Linked DNA regions of Homo sapiens: region 2 is linked to region 1. The links come from fine-mapping of genetic effects on gene expression. A gene starts in region 1. The other region holds a variant in brackets. All regions are shown on one strand. Distances are from middle to middle. Region 1 holds the start of SLC26A2 (solute carrier family 26 member 2). Region 2 overlaps PDE6A (phosphodiesterase 6A).

Evidence for each region. PIP is the estimated chance that this variant, and not a neighbour inherited with it, causes the effect.
Region 2: its variant is fine-mapped to the expression of SLC26A2 in adrenal gland (GTEx, PIP 0.94).

The regions. Positions count from the first base shown.
Region 1 is chr5:149,955,546-149,966,342 of GRCh38, reverse strand. It overlaps SLC26A2 (solute carrier family 26 member 2), which reads right to left and starts at 5,585. Exons shown (of 3, transcript NM_000112.4): 1 at 5,364-5,585. RefSeq lists a silencer at 5,530-5,649 and enhancers at 6,690-6,769, 6,566-7,169.
Region 2 is chr5:149,883,047-149,891,046 of GRCh38, reverse strand. It overlaps PDE6A (phosphodiesterase 6A), which reads left to right. Exons shown (of 22, transcript NM_000440.3): 14 at 4,673-4,782; 15 at 6,180-6,267; 16 at 6,468-6,568; 17 at 7,511-7,618. Among named protein-coding and RNA genes, the nearest start is that of PDE6A, 58 kb to the left of the region's middle. The variant C/G (reference allele first, on the strand shown) is at 3,011.

The sequences.
Region 1 (10,797 bases):
TCTGTCCCAACCATGAGACAGTTCAAACTAAATGATCAAATCATTAAGTGGTAGTTTTCCTGAATTACAGGACTTTAGAGCTAGACAGAGATCAAGAAATCCAACCGCCATGATTTTTTGGTAAGAAATAAGAGTTCAGCTGGGTACCAGTGGTTTACAACTATAATCTCAGCACTTCGGAAGGCCGAGGCATGCGGATCACTTGAGCTCAGGAGTCCAAGACCAGCCTGGCCCACATGGTGAAATTCTATCTCTACTAAAAATCCAAAAATTAGCCAGGCGTGGTAGCACATGCCTATAATCCCTGCTACTTGGGAGGCTGAGGCACAAGAATCACTTGAACCCAGGAGACAGAGGTTGCAGTGAGTTGAGATTGCGCCACTGCACTCTAGCCTAGGTGACAGACAAGACTCTGTCTCAAAAAATAAAATAAAATAAATAAATAAAGGTTCAGATTAGTGAAATCATTTGCTACTTAAAGGCAGAGATGGATCCAGAACCCAAGTATCCTGACTCCTAACCTTTTTCCTCTAATAGATTGCCTATGCCAGTCTCTGTAAGTGTATATACATCAGATAATTACAGGAAAACTAGAGTCGACCTAAAAACAACCTAAAGATCTCAAGTTTGTGGAAAACCTGAAGTCTTAACATTAACCCAGCATTAATGTGAACAAGTCAACAACCAAAGTAAGTCTCCTCTCTTATATGGAAAAATCTCAGACTAGACTGGTAAGAGCTACAGTGTAAGAAAAAAAAATAATTAAAAATATATTTTTAATAAAAATAAACTAGACTAGAATATGTAGTTTAGAAATAATTTTCCAATACTTCACACAGCTTTTTTTTTTTTTTTTTTTTTTTGAGACAGAGTCTTGCTCTGTTGCCCAGGCTGAAATGCAGTGGTGTGATCTCGGCTCACTGCAACCTCCATCTCCCAGGTTCAAGCGATTCTCCTGCCTCAGCCACCTGAGTAGCTGGGACTACAGGCGCCTGCCACCATGCCCGGCTAATTTTTGTATTTTTAGTAGAGACAGGGTTTCACCATGTTGGCCAGGATGGTCTCATCTCCAGACCTTGTGATCCGCCTGCCTCGGCCTCCCAAAGTGCTGGGATTACAGGCGTGAGCCACCGCGCCCAGCCACACACAGCTTGTAAGTAGGGGAATCATGACTTGAACAAGCCTGCCTGATTCAAACGTATACTGTCGCTTGATTGCTTATTTTGAAGCTGTTTTTAAATCTTCAGAAAAGTTGAAAGAATGATACATGGAACACTTCCATACTAACAATTCACCTATTTAGCAATTTTACAGTTCATAAGATGTTAACACACTCTCTCTCCATACTTATATGGGTTTTGTCATTATTGTTTTTCAACTATTTGAAAGTTGCAGGCATAGTTCAGCCTTAAACACTTTATTGAACCTACATTTAAAAAAAATTTTTATTTTGAAATAACTGTGGACTTGCAGAAAAGCTGTAAAAATAGTACACAGTTCCTGTATAATGGTCACTCAGTTTCCTCTAATATTGAACCTACATTTTTTTTTTAATTTTTTATTTTTGAGACAGAGTCTCACTCTGTTGCCCAGGCTGGAGTGCAGTGGCACAATCTTGGCTCACTGCAAGCTCCTCCTCCTGGGTTCATGCCATTCTCCTGCCTAAGCCTCCCAAGTAGCTGGGACTACAGGTGCCCGCCACCACACCTGGCTAATTTTTTGTATTTTTAGTAGAGACAGAGTTTCACCGTGTTAGCCAGGATGGTCTCGAGCTCCTGACCTCGTGATCCGCCCGCCTCGGCCTCCTAAAGTGCTAGGATTACAGGCGTGAGCCACCACGCCTGGCTATTTTTTATTTTTATTTTTGAGATGGGGTCTCACTCTGTTACCCAGGCTGGAGTGCAGTGGCATGATCTCAGCTCACTGCAACCTCCACCTCCTGGGCTCAAGCGATCCTGAGTAGCTGGGATCACAAGTGCACGCCACCATGCCCAGCTATTTTTTTGTATTTTTTGTAGAGACAGGTTTTCGCCGTGTTGTCCAGGCTGGTCTTGAACTCCTGAGCTCAAGTGATCTGCCTGCCACGGCCTCCCAAATTGCTGGGATTATAGGCATGAGCAAAGGAAGAGCCCAGCCTGAACCTACATTTTTAAAGCACTATGCCTCTTCTTCAAAAGAAGCATTCATTAGCAAGATGAGGTCAACCATTTGGATATGCTCCCCAAAAATCTGCACTGGCTCCCTATCTCCTACCAAATATGGTCTAAAAACATTGGTATAAGCTTCTATGCATGAGCCTAAAACTGCCACTGTCTTGCTTCCTCCTATGCACTAGTGTTCCAATCACCAGTCCATGAAAATATCAAGCAGCCTTTGCCCTTGGGGCCTTTGCTCATTGCCCAACCTCAAATGACACCTTATATAAATCGGTCCCTTCCTAGATACAATATATAAAACAGAGGCCAGGCACAGTGGTTCATGTCTGTAATCCCAGCGCTTTGAGAGGCCAAGGCAGGAAGATCACTTTGAGGCCAGGAGTTCGAGACCAGCCTGGGTAACATAGCAAGATCTTGTCTCCACAAAAAAAAAAAAAAAAAAAAAAAAGTTAAACAAATATGCAAAATAGCAGGCCGGGTGCAGGGGCTCATGCCTGTAATCCTAGCACTTTGGGGGGCCAAGGCAGGTGGATCACCTGAGGCCAGGAGTTCGAGACCAGCCTGGCCAACATGGTGAAACCCCCTCTCTACTAAAAAATACAAAAAATTAGGCCAGGCGCGGTGGCTCACGCTTGTAATCCCAGTACTTTGGGAGGCGGAGGCAGGCGGATCACGAGGTCATGAAATTGAGACCATCCTGGCCAACATGGTGAAACCCCGTCTCTACTAAAAATAAAAAGATTAGCCGGACGTGGTGGCACATGCCTGTGGTCCCAGCTACTCAGGAGGCTGAGGCAGGAGAATCACCTGAACCTGGGAGGCAGAGGTTGCAGTGAGCCAAGATCACGCCACTGCACTCCGGCCTGGAGACAAAGTGAGACTCTGTCTCAAAAAAAGAAAAAAAAAAAAATTAGCCAGGCGTGGTGGCATGTGCCTGTAATCCCAGCTACTTGGGAGGCTGACAAAGGAGAATCACTTGAACCCAGGAGGCAGAGATTGCAGTGAGCCAAGATGGCGCCACCGCACTCCAGCCTGGGCAACAAGAGTGAAACTCCATCTCAAAAAATAAATAAATAAATAAATAAATAAATAAATAAATAAATATAGCACCACTGCCATTGCTGCCATTTCCATGTCTTCCTCCTGGGCCCAGCCCTGCCTTGCACTCCTATGCCCTTTATTTTTCTCCATAGCTCTTCTCACCATTCCATACCACACATTGTTAATTGTCTTTCACATGAGGGCACTGACTTGCTCTGTTTTGTTCAAAGCTGTATTCTCAGTGTCTTGAACATGTCTTGCACCTAATAAATGCTTAGCAAGTATCTGTTGAGTGAATTAGAATTTAACAGCTATATGATAAGGAAAAAGGAGTTACTTTCCCCATTCTCACTTAACTCTCCAACCCCACTCTTCCGCCCCCACATGCCAAAACCAAGCTTATGTCAAGAAATTAAGCTTGGCAAGCATCTGCCTGGGGGTTTACATTCACTAAAAGCGTGATTATCCTTCTGTCAATCATGGGGGAAAATAAAAAATAAAAGTGTGGGCAGGGCACAGTGGCTCATGCCTGTAATCCCAGCACTTTGGAAGGCCAAGGCAGGAGGATTGCTTGAGCTCAGGAGTTTGAAACCTGACTGGGCAACATGGTGAAACACCATCTCTACAAAAACTACAAAAACTAGCCAGGTATGGCAGCGTGCACCTGTGGTTCCAGCTACTCAGGAAGCTGAGGTGGAAGGTTTGCTTGAACCCACGAGGTCAATGCTGCAGTGAGCCTAGATCGCGCCCCTGCACTCCTAGCCCGGATGACAGAGTAAGACCTGGTCTCAAAAAAAAAAAAAGTCAAATCAGAAATTAAAAAAAAGTGATTTTTTTCCCTCAAAAATTACCCCTAGCCCAGAGTATGTTCACCTCTAGATCTTCCCCTAGGAGGCAGCACATTACAGTACAATAATTGTCAAATACAGAGAGCCGTTAGCTTCTTAGGACCATCCCTGCAAATCCAAGGATGAGATCCAGGACTCCACACGCTAGATGATGCTGAACGAGTGAGCTTAGGACCACACTTGGAGAATCACTGGATGTGTTCTGGAAGTCAAACAGATCTCTGTTCAGATCCCAGCTATACTGCTCAGCAGTCATATGGCAATGGTTTTGTAAAACTTCACTGTACTCAGCATCAATTTCTGACCTGTAAAATGGGGTAACATTACCTAACTTGCTGGTTTGTAAGGCTAACACAACTACCTACCACAGTGCCTGGCACATAGCATTTACTCAATAAACGACAGCTATTAGTCTCTGTCCCTTGCTATATCCTGCCTTGAGATTCCTGATTTTAAAGGGTCCATTCCTTTCCCACAGCTTTGGCCCTCCATTTCTTATTGATTCAATTTTCAAAAACAAAAAGTTCTGCTTAATCTAGTATTGCATATCACATTAGTTGTAGATTTCACATAAAGAACTGTTGGGGACAAGGAGAAAAGACAGGTTAACTAGAATGGGCGCCGGAAGGCAATTTAAGTTCTGAATGTTTCTAACTCACTGTGATCCCCAATCTGTGCAAGGAAGGAGCCCAGGCTGATAGTCTATGAGTTTGGAGAGCTGGGTACAAGTCCTAGCTCTGCAAAAGACTTGCTGTGTATTTTTAGGCAAGGCTCTGGGCCCTCTCTGTCTTCTCAGTGTTTCCATCCATCCAGTGAAATAATACCAACTTAGTGTGTGAGTCCGAAAGAACAGGTCCTGATTTTGTACTTAATCGGGTGTGTGATTTTTAATAACCAAGATAACCAAGCCGTCTCGCCTGTGCCGGCCTCAGTTTCCCCATCTGTCCGAGGTGGTGGTGGCTCCTATCTCCTCGATCCCTATTCCAGATATCTAGGTTCGAGACGGATCAACGAGGACTGGAAAAGCAGCGGAGTGCGTGGCACCCGGCGAGATACGGCGAGATACGCGGGATGGAGGGCGGGTGGGCAGCCGCCAGCCAGACGGGCAGGCCCGGATCACCAGGGTGCAGTGCCACTCGCCCGGCCCCGGACCACCCGGGAAATAACCTGACGCACGCCCCGCTCCACGGCGGCGACCCCTGATCTGGGATTCTACCGCGCGGGGACCCAGGCAGAATGACTCTGGGAGGGGCCCGCTGACCGCTTGGCGGCCAGCACCGCTCCCTCCCTCTTCCCTGGTCCGCTTCCCTCTTCTCACCTCTCGGGTCCGGGCCGCTGCAGGCAACCAGGCGCCGCGGCACGCGTCTTCCACCGTGGCCTGACTGAGGTGGACACCGCGGCGCCGACAGAGCTATACCTGCCTGTCCCTTTCCCCGCCCATCGCTCGGACTCCGAAGGAGGCGGGGCCCGGCTGCCGGGACCTACGGGCGCGGCGAGGACGCACCGGCGAAGAGATGCCGGAGGCAGAGCCAGTGTAAACGCCCGCGGCCGAGGCCGTCACGTGGTACTGCCGGGCGAGCGACGCTACCACCAGCCAATAACTCGGCCCAGACCGGGGAGGGTGCCGCCCTCTGACTACTCTCCTCCTCGCGATTGGCTGCCCTGGACAGAAGAGCACAAGCTGGAAGGATTCTTAGAGAGGTTCCGCCGCTGCTTCCGTGGCGTTGACTCCTCCGCGGAGAGAGCGGATGACCGGCCTCGGCGGCTAGCCTGTGGCCAGGGTGAAATAGCAGGAGAGGCGCGGAAGCGCTCTGCCCAGAGTTTTGAAGTGCTCAGCGTTTGCGATCGGCCACCTCTTTATCCAGTACTACTTGGGACCCCGTTCCCTCCCACCCGCCTTTGTAGAACGGGAAATTGAGGCCCCGAACGGGAAAAGAGCTCCTAGAATGTTAGAGGCTCTTGCCTCACTATAACTCATTCCCCATCAAAGATTCCAGTAACCGGAAGGCTAAAATGTAAATTAAAAGGCCGGGCGCAGCGGCTCACGCTTGTAATCCCAGCACTTTGGGGGACCGAGTAGGGAGGATCGCTTGAACCCAGGGGTTCGAGATCAACCTGGGCAGTATAGCCGAACCTTGTCTCTATAAAACATAAAATGTAAATTAAAATGTAATTGTAGTTTTTGTTAAAATCCTTAGTGGGTTTAATGGCATTTGTAGGTAAAATCAAACCCTCCCTATGCCAAGGTACTGTGTGCTTCGGGCACTCATCTCTGCCCCCCTCCCTCGCTGATCTCCACCCATACTGGCCCCCTTTGCTCGCCACGCTTGTTCTCTTTAGGGACCTAAACATTGGTTCTGGCCATCAGATTTCTTCTGGTCTCTCAGGTCTCAGCCAAAACACCAGCCCTCTCCATGGCGAGGCCGTCCCTGACCACCCTGTGTAAACTAGCCACAGCCAGTCACATCCTTTCAGGTCATCTTGATTTAATTATCTGCCTCGAACTGGCCACTATTGAGTATGTATTAATTTGTTCATTCCTCACCTTGTTTGTAGCTTGCATGTGCCCACTAGATGGGGGTGAAGGAGGGCCTGTGAAGGAAGCATGATTAACTTCCTTTCCTTCCCTTTCCGGTGAACGTCTTCACAGTCATTCAAGGAACTCCCTTTCTTATCTAGAGATGATCCCCAAGTTTCTGTCACCCATCAGATTCAGAGTTTCCAAAACGTCATAAGCTGTCTTGGGAATCAGAACACAAACACTTGGGTTCTACTCCTGATGCTGCCCCTTGTGGCTGAAGACAAATCATTTCACCTCAATGGGCATCAATGTTTTCACCTTTCAAAGGGTAGTTAATGCCCTAGCACCCAGAGTCCTGGAGAGGGTCAGGTAAGGCAATCAGTGTAAAGTACTTTGTTTAAGCCCTAAAGACTGCACAACAAGCAGAATAAACAGTTTCTGGATGTTTATCACGTGCCTGCGCAGAACTCTTCACATTCATTACATGAGTTAATCCTCACAACAGCTTTAGAGGAGGTGCCATATTATGATTCTTCTTTTTTTTGGTGAGGAAATGAGGCTCAGAGATGTTAGGTGATCTGCCCAACGTCCCACAGTTAATAAGTGACAGTAGCATGATTTTAACACAGTCACGTCTGACTGCAAAGCCCACTCTTAACCACTACACTCACTGTGCTATGCAAATGCAAGAATCCACTCCAATCCTTGCAGCTGACATTTATTCATTTATTTGTTTGTTTTCTTGTCTGTGTGGGGAAGCCAGGACCTTGCATATAACAGGCACCAATAAAGATTGGCCAAATTTGGCCGGGCATGGTGGTTCATGCCTATAAGCCACTTGAGCTCAGGAGTTAGAGACCAGCCTGGACAACATGGTGAAACTCCAACTCTACCAAAAATAGAAAAAAGTAGCCAGGCATGGTAGCATGTGCCTGTAGTCCCAGCTACTCAGGAGGCTGGGGTGGGAGGACAGCTTGAGCCCAGTAGACAGAGGTTGCAGTGAGCCGAGATCGTGCCACTGCACTCCGGCCTGGGTGACAGAGTGAGACCCCATCTCAAAAATAAAAACAAAAGCAAAAATAAAAAACCAGACCAGTCAAATTTAATACTGCCTATCATTCTTTGATTTTATTTCATACATATTCATCTGCATCACAGACGAAGAAATTGGGGCTCAGAATAGTATTACTTACCAAGTTTATTCAGCTAACAAGCAGTAGATTTTGAGATGGGATGGAGGTGGATTTTGACCTGGGAGCTGTGACATGCCAGCACCCAAGAACATGCAAGCTATGGCCCGGGGCCAGGAGAAGGTGCTAGTAAAGAAGCTTTAGGTTGGCCATTGGTGCCTCTCTGCCTCCTAGTTCAGCATCCCTGGCTGCTGTTTACTGTTGTGGTCCCTCGCTGATCTCCACACACACATCCCAAGGAGCTCCATGGAGCCAGACTTTGGTCTGCCATGCTACTTTCCCTTCACCGATGTTCCAGTGCTCCACAACAGGAATCAAAGGCAGCGGGTGGAGGGGTGGGGTGGGGGGTGGGGGTGAATAACTAAATCCCTGCTACTGGAAAGCTGGCCAATAATTAGCTTTTCCTCGATGACATCACATCAGCAGCACTTGGATCTCTTTACGCCTCCTAGCCTGGGCATTTTTTCCCTCCTGTTGGTCTCAGGGTTCACAGAGGTGACTGGCAGCCGGAGGGCCACATTTTATAGCCATTACTCTTCCCAAACAGCTTTTCCAAAGCGTAACTAATGATGTATGCACTGGAGGCATGGTGGGCCAGCAAATAAGTCCTTTCAGGTTGGGGCCACTTCAGGATTTACCTCCTCAGCATTCCTGACCACCCATTCTTCCCAGGTGGGACTAGTCACTTCCTCTGAGGCCCCACTGGACCTTGAACTCCCACTGGATTCCCACTATTGAATGAACTATTCCTAGTGTGCTATTCAGGCTTCATTTTCACTGCTATAAGTGTCTTTTTTTTTTTTTTTTTTTTTTTTTTTAAGAGACAGGGTCTTGCTCTGTCACCCAGGCTGGAGTGCAGTGGCGCAATTATAGATCCCTCTAACCTCGAACTGCTGGACTCAAGTGATCCTCCCACCTTAGCCTCCTGAGTGTCTAGAACCACAGCCGAACGCCACCACACCCAGCTAATTTTTTATTTTTTTGTAGAAATGGGGGTCTCCCTATGTTGCCCAGCCTGATCTCAAACTCCTGGCCTCAAACTCCTGGCCTGAAGTGATCCTCCTACCTTGGCCTCCCAAAGTATTGGGATTACAGGCATGAGACACCATGCCTGGGCCATTTTACTTTTTTGCAAAACATTTTGTAAAATGTTAGCTTGATTGTTCTTGGAAATAGGTAACACAAAGTAAACAAATTAAAAAGGTCAAGGGTTTACAGTAAAAAGTAAATCTTCCTCATAGCCTATTCTTACCCTGGTGTACCTTTCTAGAGGCAAACACAGCACCCATTTTCCTGTGTTGCTTTCCAGGTTTATTCTATACCAGCAGTTCTCAGTTCTGCACAAGGTCAGGAGTTCGTGACCAGCCTGGCCAACATGGTGAAACGCTGTCTTTACTAAAAATACAAAAAATTAGCCGGGTGTGGCAGTGGGTGCCTGTAATCTCAGCTACTCAGGAAGCTGAGGCAAGAGAATCACTTGAACCCAGGAGGTGGAGGTTGCAGTGAGCCGAGACTGCAACATTGCACTTCAGCCTGGGCAACAAGAGCAAAACTCCATCTCAAAAAAAAAAAAAGAGTCTCTTGGGGAACTTTTAAAAAAATGGTAATGTTTAGGTCCTACTACCAGATATACTTTTATTGGTATTGACTCAGACATTGATAGTTTTTAAAAGCCTGCCATGCAGCCATAAAAAAGAACAAAATCACGTCCTTTGCAGCAATATGGGTGGAGCCGAAGGCCATTATCCTAAGAAAAACAACTCAGAAACAGAAAACCAAAGACACATGTTCTCACTTATAAGTGGGAACTAAACAATGGGTACATAAGATCATAAAGATGGAAATTACAGATACTGGAGACTCCAAAAGAGGAGCACGAGGGTTGAAAAATTACCTGTCGGGGCTGGGCGTGGTGGCTCACGCCTGTAATCCCAGCACTTTGGGAGGCCAAGACGGGTGGATCACCTGATGTCAAGAGTTTGAGACCAGCCTGGCCAACATGGTAAAACCTCGTCTCTACTAAAAATACAAAAATTAGCCAGGCGTGGTGGCGGCCACCTGTAATCCCAGCTACTTGGAAGGCTGAGGCAGGAAAATCACTTGAACCCGAGGGGCGGAGGTTACAGTGAGCCCAGATCATGCCACTTTACTCCAGCCTGGGCTAAAGAGTGAAACTCTGTCTCAAAAAAAAAAAAAGAAAAATTACCTGTTGGGTACAATGTTCACTATTTGAGTATTTGGGTATTGGGTACACTAGAAACCCAATTCCCTCCAGTATGTATATACCCATGTAACAAACAAGCACATGTACACCCTGAATCTAAAATAAAAATAAATTTTAAAAATAAAAGATAAAAAAAGCTATCCAGGATATTCTTTTTTTCTTTTTCCTTTTTTTTTTTTTTTTTTTGAAAGAGGGTCTCACTCTGTTGCCCACGCTGGAGTACAGTGGTGCAATCATGGCTCACTGCAGCCTCAACTGCCCCAGGCTCAGGTGATCTTTCCACCTCAGCTTCCCAAGTAACTGGGACTACAAGCATGTGCCACCACACCTGGCTAATTTTTGTATTTTTTGTAGAGGTGGAGTCTTGCTATGTTGCCCAGGTTGGCCTTGTACTCCTGACTCAAGCAATCCTCTCACCTTGTCCTCCCAAAGTATTGGGATTACAGGTGTGAGCCACAGCTCCCAGCCCCACTAGAGATTCTAAGCACACCTAGGTTGGCAAACCACTATTGTATGCATATATAAGACTCTCCCTATATATTTTTTAAACAAGAAGGGCATAGAATACATACCATTCTGTTGCTTTTTAAAAATTATGTGGTGAAGATTATTTTATATCAGTGCATACAGAGCTGCTTTCTCTCTATTGCTGAATAAATCACTCCAAAAGGTAGAAGCTTAAAGCAACAATAATCTTTTTATTTTTTTCTCAGTTTCTGTGGGTCAGGAATTTGGCAAAGGCTTGCAGGGTGGTTCTGGCTTGGGATCTCTCAGAGAGATGCAATGTGACTCTAGATAGTGGCTAGAGTTGGGACAG
Region 2 (8,000 bases), 74 kb after region 1:
GGACTCCTTATGAGTCCACACTTAACATTGGATTTACATCCTTTTAAATACCAATTTCATTTCTCCAATTCAGGTGCATAGCACTGTTTATTAAATAGGTTATCATAGGTAACTTGACTTGGATCAATGTTTGGAGTTCATTAAAATTGTATATCTCACCAATTTCAGTACTGGCTGACTTAGCATAAAAATCTGCCAAATCATTTGTTTTAATTTTCAATTATTTTTTATTCTGCTTAATACTGAGTTAGCAGTTTTATGAACCAGTTTCTTCACTGGAATTCTGGAAATTCTTCCCCAGTCCAATGGTATGATCTTATGAAGAAGAAACACTTTAGGCTTAGAGTTGCTCAGGAAAGTAGCAGAGTGAAAAACCACCTGTGGATGACAAGACTTTACATGGTCATGGTTAAAGATCTCATGAGAGTTCATTACAATAATGACACAATTGACAAGGAAATTTGGTTATTTCCGTTGCAAACATTTTAAGACAATAACTAAAATTGTGACTGATAGTGTTATACCAGGAATACTAGATTTCTATGAATTTTATACAGTTTCTGAAACACATATTAATAACACATCTTTAGAATACAACTTGAAGATTTAGCATTAATTGTATTTGACAATGCTTCCCATATAATTTAATATATAAAATAAGCCTAATTAGTTTAATGTCTCTCTTTTTACAAGAAGAGATATCTTTTTGAGATGTTCTAAGGGTTCATCTGAAAAATTCCAAAGTTAATTTGCAGTCAAGAAAAATACTTAATTTAGAATATGATTTTGGGGCCAGACGCAGTGGCTCATGCCTGTAATCTCAGCACTTTGGGAGACTGAGGTAGGTGGATCATTTGAGGTCAGGAGTTCAAGACTAGCCTGCCCAACATGGTGAAACCCCATCTCTACCAAAAATATTTTAAAAATTAGCCTAGTGTGGTGGTGTGTCTGTAATCCCGGCTACTCAGGAGGGTGAGGCAGGAGAATCACTTGAATCTGGGAGGCAGAGGTTGCAGTGAGTTGAGATCGTGCCACTGCACTCCAGCCTGGACAACAAAGCAAGACTCTGTCTCAAAAAAAAAAAAAAAATGAATATGACTTTGGGAAGTTTCTAAATGCTTGAATTTTTTTTTTTTTTTTGAGACAGAGTCTTGTTCTGTCACCCAGGCTGGAGTGCAGTGGCATGATCTCAGCTCACTGCAACCTCTGCTTCCTGGGTTCAAGCGATTCTCCTGTCTCAGCCTCCCCAGTAACTGGGATTACAGGTGCGTGCCACCGGGCCAAGCTAACTTTTTGTACTTTTAGTAGAGACGATATTTCACCATGTTGCCGAGGCTGATCTCGAACTCCTGACCTCAAGTTATCCGCTTGCCTCAGCCTCCCAGAGTGCTGGGATTACAGGCATGAGCCACTGCATCCAGCCCAAAATAAGATAATTTAGCCTAGTGTGGTGGCATGCGCCAGTAGTCCCAGCTACTCAGGAGGCTGAGATGGGAGGATTGCTTGAGCCCAGGAGGTCCAAACCGCAGTGAGTTTTGATTGCACCAGTGCACTCTAGCCTGGGTGACAGAGCGAGACTCTGTCTCAAAACAAAAATAAAATAAGATAAATAATAAATAAATAAATAAAAATACAGAAAGTTAAATACTTATAGAAAGACCTTAGCTCTTTTAATAAAGAAAACAGTTTTCTTAAGTGATCAAAAACCTAATAAAGGCAACCTGGAGTACAGGAAATTAATTTGGTAAAGCACAGAATCTTTGTTTCCTAGGTCAATTACCTAAAAGATAAATTTCCTGTTAACAGCAGACCAATACTCAAAGAAAATTTGTTGTTTTAAAAGAGAGGTCCAAGTTCTAGTTTTGCATCAGTGTACTTTTGACATCAATGTTCAAGATAGCATTAATTTCAAAATTTTAGAAAAACTTCAAACAATTTTCTTCTGATCTTTTTTTTTTTTTTTTTGAGACAGAGTCTCACTCTGTCGCCCAGGCTGGAGTGCAGTGGCACATCTCAGCTCATTGCAAGCTCTGCCTCCCGGGTTCACGCCATTCTCCTGCCTCAGCCTCCCGAGTAGCTGGGACTACAGGCGCCCGCCACCATGCCTGGCTAATTTTTTGTATTTTTAGTAGAGACGGGGTTTCACTGTGTTAGCCAGGATGGTCTCGATCTCCTGACCTCGTGATCCGCCCGCCTCGGCCTCCCAAAGTGCTGGGATTACAGGCGTGAGCCACCGCACCCAGCCATTTTCTTCCAATCTTAGCCAGCTTCATCACACATACAATTACTTTCACAAGATTTATCTTCCACAAGCCTTCTACAACTTTCTTATCCATTCAACTTTTTCCTATACTTTTTCCTCTTCTCATTTTGGAGTAACCAGTTATCCTACATTAGGACAAAAGTTTCTCTTTTCACCCTTAACAAAATAAAACATCCTCATATCTTATAGCTTTTTCTTACCAAAAGCAGTTTTTGCCCTCTTGTATAATTGCTTATAGAATTGTTTCCCTTATTATTTTATTAATAATATATTAATTATTAGTTATTAATATATTATAAATAACATATTAATTATGTGTTAAGAATTCTAAATAAAGAAATATATATTAATATATGTTAATATATCCTTATATTAATTAGAATTCTTAACCCTTAGTGACCTTAATTTCCAGTGAACACTAGGAAGCAAGCAAAAATTGTGAACTGTCTGTCACACCAGCAATCTGTAGATCAATCGTCTGTGAATAATAATTTCTAGAAGCATGTAGTTCCCCATAGTACAATCTGTCACTGTGGCACAGAAAATTTTTAGTAACAGTCCCAAATATTTTTAGTCTCTTGGTAATAAGAAATTGTAGAGGAGGCAACATTTAATCTCTATCCTCTTAGATCTTTTTTTACTTTTGAGATATGATCTTGCTCTGTCACACAGGCTGGAGTGCAGTGCTGAGAACACACGGCTCACTGCAGCCTTGACCTCCTGGGCTCAAGCGATCCTCCCACCTCA[C/G]CCTCCCACATGTTAGGTTTTGAAGGGAAGGCGAGGGTTAAAGAAAGACACACACACACACACACACAGAAAGAGGGCGGCTCAAGAGCAAATGCAGGCTTTACGCCCAGCATAAAATCTACAGAAGTAGGAACCAGCCTAATGCCAGAGCCCACCGCTGCTTACAGGCTGGTGGTACTTATAGGTATGGGCGGGAGGGGTCTGGGCAGTATGGCTTGTTGCCTGGCAGGCTATTGATAAGATGTTCTCATGATGAGGCGGTTTTGCTTTTGTCTCGGTGGGATGCCATTGTGGTGTTTCTTGGACTTTTGCCCAGCAAGATATGATAGGAATGTTTCTTTAGTTGGGCCTTTGTCTGCCTTGTGGTCAGGTGGTTAGGAAGGCTGTTTCTCCCGACCCAAACCCCCATGAAATGTTTCACTTTGACCAAGGTCTGCAAAATAATGGGGAGCTTACAAAATGGTGCAGTTGGGACTAACACCAGGTAGCCGAGACCACAGGTATGTGCCACCATGTCCACATAAATTTTTAGTTTTGTAGAGACAGGGTCTGGCTGTGTTGCCTAAGCTGATCTTGAATTCTTAGGCTCAAGTGGTCCTCCTACCTTGGCCTCCCAAAGTGCTGCCATGTGTGACCTGCCATGCCTGGCCCTGTCTTATTTTTTGTTTCTTTCATCTTGACTATTCTATGCACCTCATATACAGTGAGGTGAAATCATACAGTATTCGTCCTTTCGTGTCTGGCATATTTCACTTAACATAACATTTTTGAGGCTTATCCATGATACAATTTTGTGGCTGCATAGTGTTCTATTGTTGGACTTGGAAGTCTTTTCAATCTTTCACTATTACAAACAGTGCCACAATATCCTTGGATGGACTTATCTTTGTGTATTTGTGTTCGTATTTTTCACTGAGAGGGTTCGGAGACTTTTATGTTTTATTTCAAGTTATTTCCCCATCCAGATCATGATGCAAATCCCTGCCCTTCCTCAACATCATCCCTTCCCCCTTGGCTGAAATGGTCAGGCCAGAGTAGGTGCTAGGGCCCGGAAGCAGGAATTCTGACCAGGCTACCTTAAAGGGTGACAGGAACACCACTTAGAGTGATTGCTTTCATAAAGTCAGCATCAGCTCTCCAGAGCACTTTCCCACATTTGGTTTCAACACCCAGCATCAACAAGGAGTTAAGTGTCTGGCAAAATCCCAGGGAAGGATTCCTCCAGGCTGTGCTTAAACCAGTAGACCACGTTTGGAAGATTTGCTTTACCAGCCTGGCCATGTTCAGAAACTCTCCAAATCCTAAAACCTGACTTCTACAAGTTTCTCAAAATTCATCTGATCCAATATGCTCGACCCTCATTATGGAGATTGGGCTACCGAGGTTCAGAGGGAGATGAGACCAGCTAAGGTCAACTCAGAAATAGGGTGACCAGTTGTTCCCATTTACCTGGGACTTTCCCCATTCTAGCACTGAAAGTCCCATATCCAAAAAACCCCTCAGCCCTGGGCAGTCCTCTGGTCAGCCTCTGGAGCCAGGATACAGCCAAGATCAGACCCATGAGTTTTTTAGTTCTGGGCCCTCCTCCTTACACCCGCCTTTTCAGCCCTGCTTCCAGCCCCTACACAAAAGGAATGATTTGCACTCTGATTGCCCTTCCAGACGGGAAAGCTGAAGCGCTACTTCACGGACCTAGAGGCCTTGGCCATGGTCACTGCTGCTTTCTGCCATGACATTGACCACAGAGGCACCAATAACCTCTACCAGATGAAGTGAGTCAGCCTCCCTCCCCACACCCAACCCTCCGGATTCATTATCCAGCTCTGTGTGGCTCCCAGGCAGACTCACTGGCCAACAGGGAAGTCTTGTGGTCCACAGCTTCCCACCGCCTTCTGCCCTTGGGATCCGGGTCTCCTCCTGTAGCAGGCAGAATAATGACCACCACAAAGATGTCCAGATCTCAAATCCCTGAGCTGGGGAATATGTTGCCTTACATACAAAAGGGACTGTGCAGATGTGATTAAGTCGAGGATCTTGAGATACAGGGATTATTCATTCGAGTGGGCCCCATGTAGTCCCAATGGTCCTTATAAGAGGGAAGCAAGAGGTCAGAGAGGAAAGAAGATGCTACCCTGCTGGCTTTGAAGATGGAGGCATGGCCTACAAGCAAGGAATGCAGGTGGCCTCTAGAAGCTCAAAAGAGCAAGGAAACGGATTCTCCTCTGGAGCTTCCAGAAGGAAAGCAGCCCTAAGGACCCATTTCAGACTCCATACAGAGCTGTAAAATAATAAATTTTATTGCTTTAAGCCATTAAGTTTGTGGCAGTTTGTTATAGCAGCCATAGAAAATGAATGCATTAAACTCCTGTACTTGTCTCCTTCCTTGTCCTACCTGCTGCACTAATTTGAGCCAAGATGTTAATAACCAGTAATGGTTCATTCACTCATCTCGTATTTACAGTGCTTCTAATATAGTGTGGTAGGCTCTATGCCAGGCAAAAAAGGTGCTCTGATGAGCAAAACAGCTCCTGTCCTTACAGAGCTTATATTTCAGACAGCCCATAAAGCATAGTCCTTGAACCATGATCTCATTGGATCCTCACAACCACCCAGTGGGCTGGGCAGAGCAGGGGCTAATGTTATCCCTACTTACAGATGAGAAAACTGAGTCTCCGCTCAGGGCCGATGGCCTGTAAGTCATTAACAAGCTCTGAATTCATGCTGCTGAGTCTTCTCAATACTTTCATGCTGCTCTGGGGCTAGAGATTGGGTTTACATTTTACATTTTGAGAATCTAAATACTTAGCACAGTGTGTGGCACATAGCAAGTGCTCAACAAATAATTATTGAATGCAGAAATGAATAAATACACGGCTTGCGGAAATTCAGTTGTTTCCTTCAAGACTTGGATGTGAAGAATCAGGGCTAGATGATCTTGAAGCATGGCCCAGTGCTAATGTCCCTAAAATCCCTTATGGCATTGTGTGTGTTTGTGGCTTTCTCTGGGGAAGGGGTCCATGCTATTTAGTAGATTCTCTAATGAGTTCACGACCCAAAAGTAACTCGGAATCACTTGTGGAGAAGGCTGAAGACTGAGTCAGGAGACTTGATGTTTAGTCCTAATTTTCTATTGTCCACTCCATATTGATTCTCTCTCTTTCTCATTCAGATCCCAGAACCCACTGGCCAAGCTCCATGGGTCCTCTATCTTGGAAAGACACCACTTGGAGTTTGGCAAAACACTGCTCAGAGACGAGGTAGGATGAGGGCCAAGGGTCTACAGGCCGCGGGGCCTGGATCAGAGGCTCTATTTCACAAGGAGCCTGAGTGTGCCCAGGGAGCATTCTTCCCATTGGCCTGGGCTGCCTCTGCCATCATCTGGGGTGGCCATTGGTAGGTGGGTGACTTTACTGCCAGCATCAATTCTCTCCCATCTCGCTTCTCTTTTTTTCTTTAGAGCCTGAATATCTTTCAAAACCTCAATCGTCGACAGCATGAGCATGCCATCCACATGATGGACATTGCAATCATTGCCACAGACCTCGCCCTGTATTTCAAGTTGGTATATCTTCTCATTCTAATAGTAAAAGCAACAATGATTATATGTATGCATATATATATATACACACATATATATACATATATACACATATATATACACACATATATACATATATACACATATATACACACATATATATACATATATACACATATATACATATATACACATATATACATATATACACATATATACACATATATACATATATATACACATATATATACACATATATCTACACATATATATGTGTGTGTGTATATATATATATATATTTTTTTTTTTTCTTTTTTGAGACAGGATCTCACTCTGTTGCCCAGGCTAGAGTGCGGTGGCACCATCACAGCTCACTGCTTCCTGGGCTCAAGGGATCCTCCCACCTCAGCCTCCTGAGTGGCTGGGACTACAGGAACACCACCACTCCTGGATAATTTTTTAATTTGCTGTAAAGATGGGTTCTCACTATGTTACCCAGGCTGATCTAAAACTCCTGGTCTCAAGCCATCCTTCTGCCTCAGCCTCCCAAAGTATTGGGATTACAGGCATGAGCCACTGCACCCAGCAACAATATAATAACAATAATAATAACAAACATCATAGTTCCAATTAATTTAGCATATACTATGTGTCAGGCACAACACGTGTGTTATGGACACATTGATTCTTGCTACAAGCCTGTGAGTTAGATATCATTACCCCCGCTGTACAGATGGGAACACTGAGATTCAGGACAAGAGATTTGCTAAGAGTAGATAACAAATCAGTGGCAGAGACTTAGGTTAAACCTAGGTCTTCACTCCTGGGCCTTGGCTCTTTCAACCTTGTTTTGTGAATTTTGTTGATTTAATAAGGCTCCATCTGAATCAGCCAATGTTAGCAGCTCAGGTGTTGCCTTATTCTAAGACTTGCTCCCTTTACTAGACTGATATGTTTTGTAGGAAGAGGACGATGTTCCAAAAGATCGTGGATCAGTCTAAGACATATGAGAGTGAACAGGAGTGGACACAGTACATGATGCTGGAGCAGACACGGAAGGAAATCGTTATGTGAGTTGGGATGGGGTTAAAACCTGATCCTCTTAGGCTTAGGATCATGAGGCGAGATGCACTGACAGCTCTTGCTGCCCTCAACAAGCCTTGGGACTATTTCATTTTGGAGGCCTTCAACATATGAAAAAAATGAAGTTATGCCAAATTCCAATTGCACAAGCCACATGTTTAATCTTTATTTTAGCACTAAAAATGCAAGACAGTGTATTATTGTTTTATTTATCTGAATAAAAAAATATGTTATTTGAAGTAGTTCAATCATAATATCTAAGATTTGGGTGGTAAACTGATATAACTTTTAAGTTTTTGATACAACGGAAAGCACTATAGCAATTAAGGGGTTTTTGTTTTGTTTTGTTTTTTGTTTTGAGACAGAGTC